Linked DNA regions of Homo sapiens. The protein of the gene in region 1 interacts with the protein of each later gene in a pairwise test. Each region holds a gene or a part of one and is shown in the gene's direction. Other genes may lie near its edges.

Evidence for each region.
Region 2: the proteins of SYPL2 (region 1) and SLC41A1 interact in binary tests that used the Homo sapiens proteins (3 or more experiments, as listed by UniProt).

What each region holds. Positions count from the first base shown.
Region 1 is NC_000001.11:109,469,314-109,473,225, forward strand, and holds part of SYPL2 (synaptophysin-like protein 2), read left to right. Parts: intron 1-3,912.
Region 2 is NC_000001.11:205,806,287-205,810,198, reverse strand, and holds part of SLC41A1 (solute carrier family 41 member 1), read left to right. Parts: coding exon 1-129; intron 130-3,912. UniProt on the Homo sapiens protein: Na(+)/Mg(2+) ion exchanger that acts as a predominant Mg(2+) efflux system at the plasma membrane.

The sequences.
Region 1 (3,912 bases):
ATCTTTGTGAAAAGAAAGTAATGTTATTCTTTTATTTGTCAGGAGCTTATCTTAGAGTTTTTTTTTTTTTAATTGAGAAATCAACTAATCTCACCTCAATTCCAATTCTGGAGTCTCACTAAGTCTATACTAAGCTAGCAAAAATAACCTGGACATAGACCAATTATTGGAGAACTAGTTTTTTTTTAAAAAAGAAAAGGACATCAAATCATAGGAGTTCAAGATAAAAAAGAAAAGAAAAGAAGTATCTTAAAAAAAATTTTCTTTTTAAGAAAAAGACACACTTTGGGAGGCTGAGGTGGGAGGATTGCTTGAGCCCAGGAGTTTGACACAAGCCTGGGCAATAAGGGGAGGTCGCGTCTCTATTAAAAAATAAAATTAGTTGGGTGTGATGACACATGCTTGTGGTCCCAGCTCCTTGGGAGGCTGAGGCTGGAGGATCATTGAGCCCAGGAGGTCGAGGCTGCAATGAGCTGCGCACTCCAGCCTGAGTGACAGAACTAGACCTTGTCTCAAAAAAAAAAAAAAAAAAAAAAAAAGGAAAATAAAACAAAAGAAAAAGGAAGATAGAGACAGATTTTTGAGGTCAGATAGGCTTCGGTTTAAATTGAGTCCCCTCTGCTTTCTTGCTTTCTAGCTCTGGAACCTTGAGTGAGTAAATATCAAATCTTTTTTTTTTTTCAGACAGGCTCTAAGATAGAGACTGGCTCTATCGCTGAGGCTGGAGTGCAGTGGTACGAACACATCTCACTGCAGCCTAAATTTCCAAGCTCAGGCAATCCTCCCACCTCAGCCTTTCAAGTATCTGGGACCAAAGGCACATGCCACCATGCCTAGCTAAGTTGTAAAAAATTTTTGTAAAAATCGGGTCTTGCTATGCTGCCCCAGCTGGCTTTGAGTTCCTGGGCTCAGGTGATATTCCCACCTCAGCCTCCAAAAGTGCTGAGATTACAGGCATGAGCCTGTTACCTCGCCTAAACAAAACAAAAAACAATGAGATAAGCGTGGGAGTAGGACCTGGGGAGAGAATTTGTCTTCCTTGTGCTCTGAGCTAACTGGTGATGTTAGTGTCCTCAGGACTGTCACAGGATTATCACCAGCGAGCATGTCAGTGCCAAAGGGGAGCCTCATCCTTAAACTGGAAAGGTTTAAGGTTGCAAAAGAGATGCAGAAGCAAGAGGAGGCGGAGGGCAGAAAATGACCGTCGCTGTCCCAGCAATGGAGGTCCAAGAGGAGAAAGGCTGGTTGGCACCAGAATGCTAGAACTCCCCCTTGTCTCAGGTCCTCTACCTCTCCTTGGCTGCTCTTTATAACCAGTTTGCTCATCTCAGAGCCTTGTGCTTGGTGACAGGGGTGATTTTAGTTCTTTCCTTCTCTTCTCTGTGTCTCAGTCACTTGGCAAAGTTAGGGAAGAAAGCAAATCTGGAGTGGAAAGATGGAGGGTTAGGAGACATGGAGGGGGTTGGGAGAAAGTGTCTTTCTGAGCTTCTGCACCCCAAGGCACAGAGCTACTCCTTCCCTCCTTGTAATCCTCAATGCACATGGTAGAGATCTCTTCTTTAGCCTCAATAACTCTGGGATGCAGTGTTTGTTTTTATTATTTTTTGTTTGTTTGTTTTGCTATGACGCTCCTTTCTTGATGTGAATTCTCAAGAGCAGGAGATAGGTGTTATTCGTCTTCATATCTCCAGCACCTGGCACAAGGTAGATGCTCAATCAGTGTTGAGTTAATGAGCAAATGAAATGGAAAGAGCACTGGACAGGGAATCAGGAGATGTGAATTCTAAGCCTGGCTCTCACATTAACTAAATGTGACTTTGGGAAAGTGACTTAATCTTTTGGGGCTTCACAGTCCCCCTCTGTGACATGAGATGATTGGGTGTGAGAATCTTTGAGGTCCCTTTTGTTCTGCTGTTCTGTGAACCTGTGATTCCCCTCAGATGTTCTCATTTTGCTCTGGTACCATCCGACTGTATAGTGTTCAGATTTAAACATATATTTTGGTAAATAAAAAATCATCGTGTAAGATCCCTGACTTGAAAAGAATCAGAATACAATAAATACTAAAGTTATTGTGGGTGTATTTTGCCCTCTGAGGAATCCGAAAGCATGATTCAGGATTGTCAGAACCTCAGGACCGTCGTTTAGACACAGCAGAACTTTTGGTAATAATGGAAAAGTTTTAGAATCGGTGCTCTCTAAGATAGTACCTGCTAGTCACATGAGGCTATTGGGCACTTGAAATGTGCCTAGCGTGACTGAACTGAATTTTTTTTTTTTTAGTAGAGACGGCATTTTGCCATGTTGGCCAGGCTGGTCTCGAACCCCTGACCTCAAGTGATTTGCCCGCCTTGGCCTCCTAAAGTGCTGGGATTACAGGCATGAGCCACCACACCCGGCCTGAACTTTTTTGTTGTTGTTTGATCCAGTCTCACTCTGTCATCCAGGCTGGAGTGCAGTGGCGTGATCATAGCTCATTGCAGCCTTGAACCCCTGGGCTCAAGTGATCCACACACTTCAGCAGCTGGGACTACAGGCATGTACCACCATGCCCGACTACTTTTTTTTTTTGGTAGAGATGGAGTCTTGCTATGATACCCAGGCTGGTCTTGAACTCCTGGCCTCAAGTGATCCTCCCACCTTGCTTCCCAAAGTGTTGGGATTACAGGTCTGAGACACTGCACCCGGCTTGAATTTTTTATTTAATTTAATTCTGATTAACTTAAACTTAAATAATCAAGCTTGGCTAGGGGCTACTGTTTTGGATAGTGCAGCTCTAGAGTATGAGCCCCATGAGGACAGAGATTTTGTTATTCTTTTTCTTTTTTTGAGATAGGGTCTCGCTCTGTCACCCAGGCTGGTGTCCAGTGGTGTGATCATGTAGCTTTGACCTCCTGGGCTCAAGAGATCTTCCCACATCAGCCCCCAGAGTAGCTGGGACCACAGATGTGCATCACCACACCTGGCTAATTTTTCTTGGCTAAATAAAAAGTTGGCTAGTCTCAAACTCCTGGGCTCAAGTGATCCTCCCACCTCAGCCTCCCAGAGTGCTGGGATTACAGGCATGAACCACCATGCTTGGCCTTTTTTCTCTTTTGTTCACTACTAGATAATAGTGCCTGGAACCATGCATAGTAGGCACTGTACATGCTAGGCATAGTACATGCTCTTAAATTTTATCTTTCTGTAGATGCTCAGGAGTGCCTTTCAGGAGAGTGCTGGTGAAGAGAAGGCTCCATAACTGACCGTTCACTGCCCCCAAGTTTTGAGTACCTACTTTCTTTTTCTTTACTTTTTTTTTTTTTTTTTTTTTTTGAGATGGGGGTCTTGTTCTGTTGCCCAGCCTGGAGTGCAGTGGCATGATCATAGCTCACTGCAGCCTTGAACTCCTGGGCTCAAGTGATTCCTCCCCATCAGCCTCCTGAGTAACTGGGACTATTAGCAGGCACCACCATGCCCAGCTAATTTTTTGTTTGTAGTTTCTGTAGGGGAGGGTCTTGCTATGTTGCCTATATGTTGCTAGTCTCAAATTCCTGGGCTCAAGCCATTCTCCTGCTTGGCCTCCCAAACTGCTGGGATTACAGCTGTGAGCCACCATGCCCGGCCCCTGCTTTCTTAAGGAACCTATAAGGAGCCATTCACTGACTAACTGCCAACGGGTAAAAATATTTCCAACTGTGCTGCCCTTCCCAGAATGTGACACCCTAATCACATCCAGTTCTGGGCACCAGAAGCTAAGAGGAATAAAGAAACTTCTAAGAGGAATCAGATGGCCACAGAACTGACAAAAGATTAGCGAATTCCTATGAGGAAGAGTTAGAGAAGTTCCACTATTACAATGGTGAGGCCACTTTGAGTAAGTAAAGGGTAATGATGCAGAGGCTTCGAGTGACTCTTCTCTACCTCTGTGAA
Region 2 (3,912 bases), about 96 Mb from region 1:
GACCGTGGCCCTGCGCCACCTTCCCCGCTCAAGGAGACCTCCTTTTCCATCGGGCTGCAAGTACTGTTTCCATTCCTCCTGGCAGGCTTTGGGACCGTGGCTGCTGGCATGGTGTTGGACATCGTGCAGGTAGGACCTGAGTAGGGCAGCTCTTGACTGTGAGCCCAGGGCCACCTTTGCCTGCTGGGAAACTTGGAACTTCCTCTCTACCTCCCTGTCAGAAGTGGCTGCTGCTTCCTAGAATACTGTTTTCCTTTGGATCATGTCCTCGGTTTCTTCTTGGTCTAGTTCCTTTCTACAGAAGCCTCAAGGAAACCGAGTAGCCCTGGGGAGGTGATCAGGGCAGTATTGCTAAATAGAAACAGAATTGGCTCCCGAGCTCAGGCTTGGGAGAGGAGAGATGGAACAGGGTCGTTGCTTGCCATCTCTCCCAAGCAGTCCTGCCGAGCCCAGCTCAGTAGGAGACATTTACAAGGGTCTCCTCTTTATGCCTTTTGTCCCCTGCATTTGGGGTTTCAAGGATACCCATAGTAGAAAGCTCAGTTTCAAGCCTCTCCTCCATCCCCCTACTGGGCAGGAATTTGTTCAGCTGCCAAGAGGGTCTCAAATTAAGTAGGAAGGCTCTTGAAGGCATTTTGTGTTGCTTATCTTCCTGTAACCTTGGCATAATCCCCTTGGGGGGTGGGGGTGGGCACTTGCTGTCTGATGCATGATTTGGAGATTTGGTGTAACAAGACCCAAATGTGCTAATTATCTGCTGTAAATGGGGACAAAATGTAACTAGGCCTGGGCAGAACTGTCTCTCCTCTTTGCTCCTCACCTGTCATTCTGAACCTGCCCTGGGCAAAGAGGGTTCTTTTTGAGGACATTGGGTAGAATGAAGGATGAGAGTCGGTGGGACATGGAATCTAAGAGCCAGAGATGTGCCATGTTAATTTATTGTGAGTCAGGACTTATGAAGAACCTCCAGGTCCAAGAGTTAAAGTTTTGTTTTTAGATAAAAGTTTTTTAGGCACAGTGTGGCACACCAAACTTTTTGAAGGTGCTGGGTTTACCTAAGTAATTCAGCAATGTGTATCAAATTCCTGCTGAATGCTGGCCTCTGTCCTAGGTACTCAGAGAAATATTAATACCAAGGCAGGAGGAGATCTGGCCTTTGCTTTTTGGGACCCCCAGTGTTCCCTGACTGTGATATCTCCCAGAAGGACACGAAGCTTAGCATCACCTTCCCTGTGCCAAGCCAACCCTACAGACCATAGTGATATAGAGTTCTGCTGGTAGGTCTCACCATGCCTGTGTCCTGGGAGACTGAAGGGGGTTGGTTCTTGATAGTGTGTGCACATGGAGAACTTTGACTTGAGCCCTTCAGGGGAACCCTGCACCTTTGGTTGCTCATGAGAGTGCTGTTTAAGTCATGCCAAAGTGCCTTGCACTGCCTCCCCTTTCCCCAAAACTGTTATCTTGAAGGTTGTTCCTACATGGAGGTTGGGAAGCCAGCCTGGAGCTTTGGGTTCCTCCTGCTAGGGGCTGCTCCTCCCCCTAGGGCCGGGACTGGGACAGTAGGAGGAGGAGAAAGAGACTAGGGTAACATTTTTCTTCACCTCTTCTATTCCTTTCCTGTGGCCTCAGTTCTCATTCTTGAAGTTGTTGCATTCTGGTTTGATACCTACAAAGGGTTGCAGAGCCAGGGTCCAGAGGTGAACTGAAGAGAGTTGTCTTATTTTCTGGATAATAGTAATGGTAGTGGGGAAGCATTTGGGGGGCTCTTCGGTAGGCCCATGAGGTAGGATCCATAATCATCTCCATTTTGTAGGTAGGGAACTTGTAGCTTAGAGGGATTAGGTAACTTGTCCCTGGTCATCTGACCCTAGAGCCCACACCACTAACCCCTGTGGCCTTCGCCATGGCCATGGTTCACCAGTTGGTTAAAAACTCGGAGAGGGGGCCGAGCTCAGTGGCTCATGCCTGTAATCCTAGCACTTTGGGAGGTCAAGACGGGCGGATCACCTGAGGTCAGGAGTTTGAGACCAGTCTGGCCAACACAGTGAAACCCCGTCTCTACTAAAAATACAAAAAATTAGCTGGGCATGGTGGCAGGCACCTGTAGTCCCAGCTACTTGGAAGCTGAGGCAAGAGAATCATTTGAGCCCGAGAAGTGGAGGCTGCAATGAGCCAAGATCGTGCCACTGCTCTCCAGCCTGGGTGACAGAGCGAGACTCCAACTCAAAAAAAAAAAAACTCTGGCTGGGCATGGTGGCTTATGCCTGTAATCCCAGCACTTTTGGAGGCTGAGGCAGGAGGATCGCTTGAAGCCAGGAGTTCAAGACCAGCCTGGGCAACAAAGTGAGACCTTGTCTCTACCAAAAAAAAAAAAAATAGTCAGGCATGGTGGCATTCTCGTATAATTCCAGCACTTTGAGAGGCTGAGATAGGAGTGATCACTTGAGCCCAGGAGTTTGAAGTCGCAATGAGCTATGATTGTACCACTGCACTCCAGCCTCAGCAACAGAGCCAAACGCTGTCTCAAAAAAAAAAAAAAAAAAAAAAAGACTCTACGAGGAGCCTATTTTCTTTGTCTTTCCTTGAAGAACTGGGTGGATTAGAATCTGGATTAATTAGCGTTATCTTCTGAAGTGAGCAAGAATAAAAGTTCTTAGATGGGGTAGGGAGGGACCCCCGCATACACACCACACCCCTACCCATCCCACACACTTAGATTCCAAAGTTTCTGATGTGTTGCCCCATCCCCACTCCAGGCCCATGAGCTGGAGACATTGAGAGGCCTGGGTAGGGAACCTTTGGAGCTGCTCTCAGTGTGGCACCTCAGCTCACCTCAGAGCTAGGGTCCACTTGGTGTGGATGACAATGACAGGTTTGTCCATGTCCTCCTCCCCCAGCCTTCCTGCTACAGCTGGGCTGGAGCAGGCCCTGCAGATGGCAACAGTGAGATGGCAGGAGGGGGTGAGTGCAGAGGGACCGAGACATGGGACCACAGGGAGATTGTTATTCCACATCCATGGGAGTAAAAGGGGGACTGACAATCTCAGATTCAGGAAGAGCGGGATGGTTTCTAAGGATTCACACCTATATTACCCCTTCATAAGCTAAGATGGACTTCAGTAAGAGAATCTGAAAGTGCCCCAAGACCATGGGGCCATCTGGAGAAGCTGGCTATGGAGTGTCCCCAGCATCTTGGAGCAACTGAGCAGGAGTCCATATTGGGCCTGGTTCAGATGTCTCCTTGGTCCAGGGCCCCCATCTTTCCTTGCTGCTGTAGAAAACTTGGTTTCTTTTTCACCAACGAGATGCAAAAAAAATAAAAATAAAAAGTTGAATTTTAATTTTAATTTAAAAGAAAAAGAAAACCCACTCTCTTCCTAGAAGGGTCATTTCTGCCTCCTCTTATCTGCCCTCCCGTAAATGTGCACAGCAGCATCTGCAGTGAAATAAGGGGCTGGTGCTGGCCCAAAGTAGGAAAAGGATAAATGGACCTCCATCTGCTCTAACTTCCCAACCATGGCTGAAAGTTCCTGCAGCATCTGGAAGGGAAGCAGGCTGGGGCCTGGTGTTGGCTTCTGAAGGGGGTTGGGATATGGGAGCCTCCTCACTGCAGGAGCCTTGTGCCCATCTGCCCAGTTTGGTCCTAGGCTGCTCCGGATGTCTCACTCCCTTTATCTGTCAGCCTTTGTGAGGGATGGGGTGACAGGAAGTAGTGTGCCCATCTGCACTTTAATTCCCAGCTAGGTTAAGACAGGTCCTTATTTTAACTCACTACTCACCTGCTAAGGATCTTGAACAAAGTAGATCCTGCTGTGTATACAGAAGTCTACAACGATGAAAGTGCATGGCAAGCGTGGCCTTGGGGAAGTAGAGTGGGAAGGAAGTATTCCTCCTGTGCCTGGCCTGCTCCTG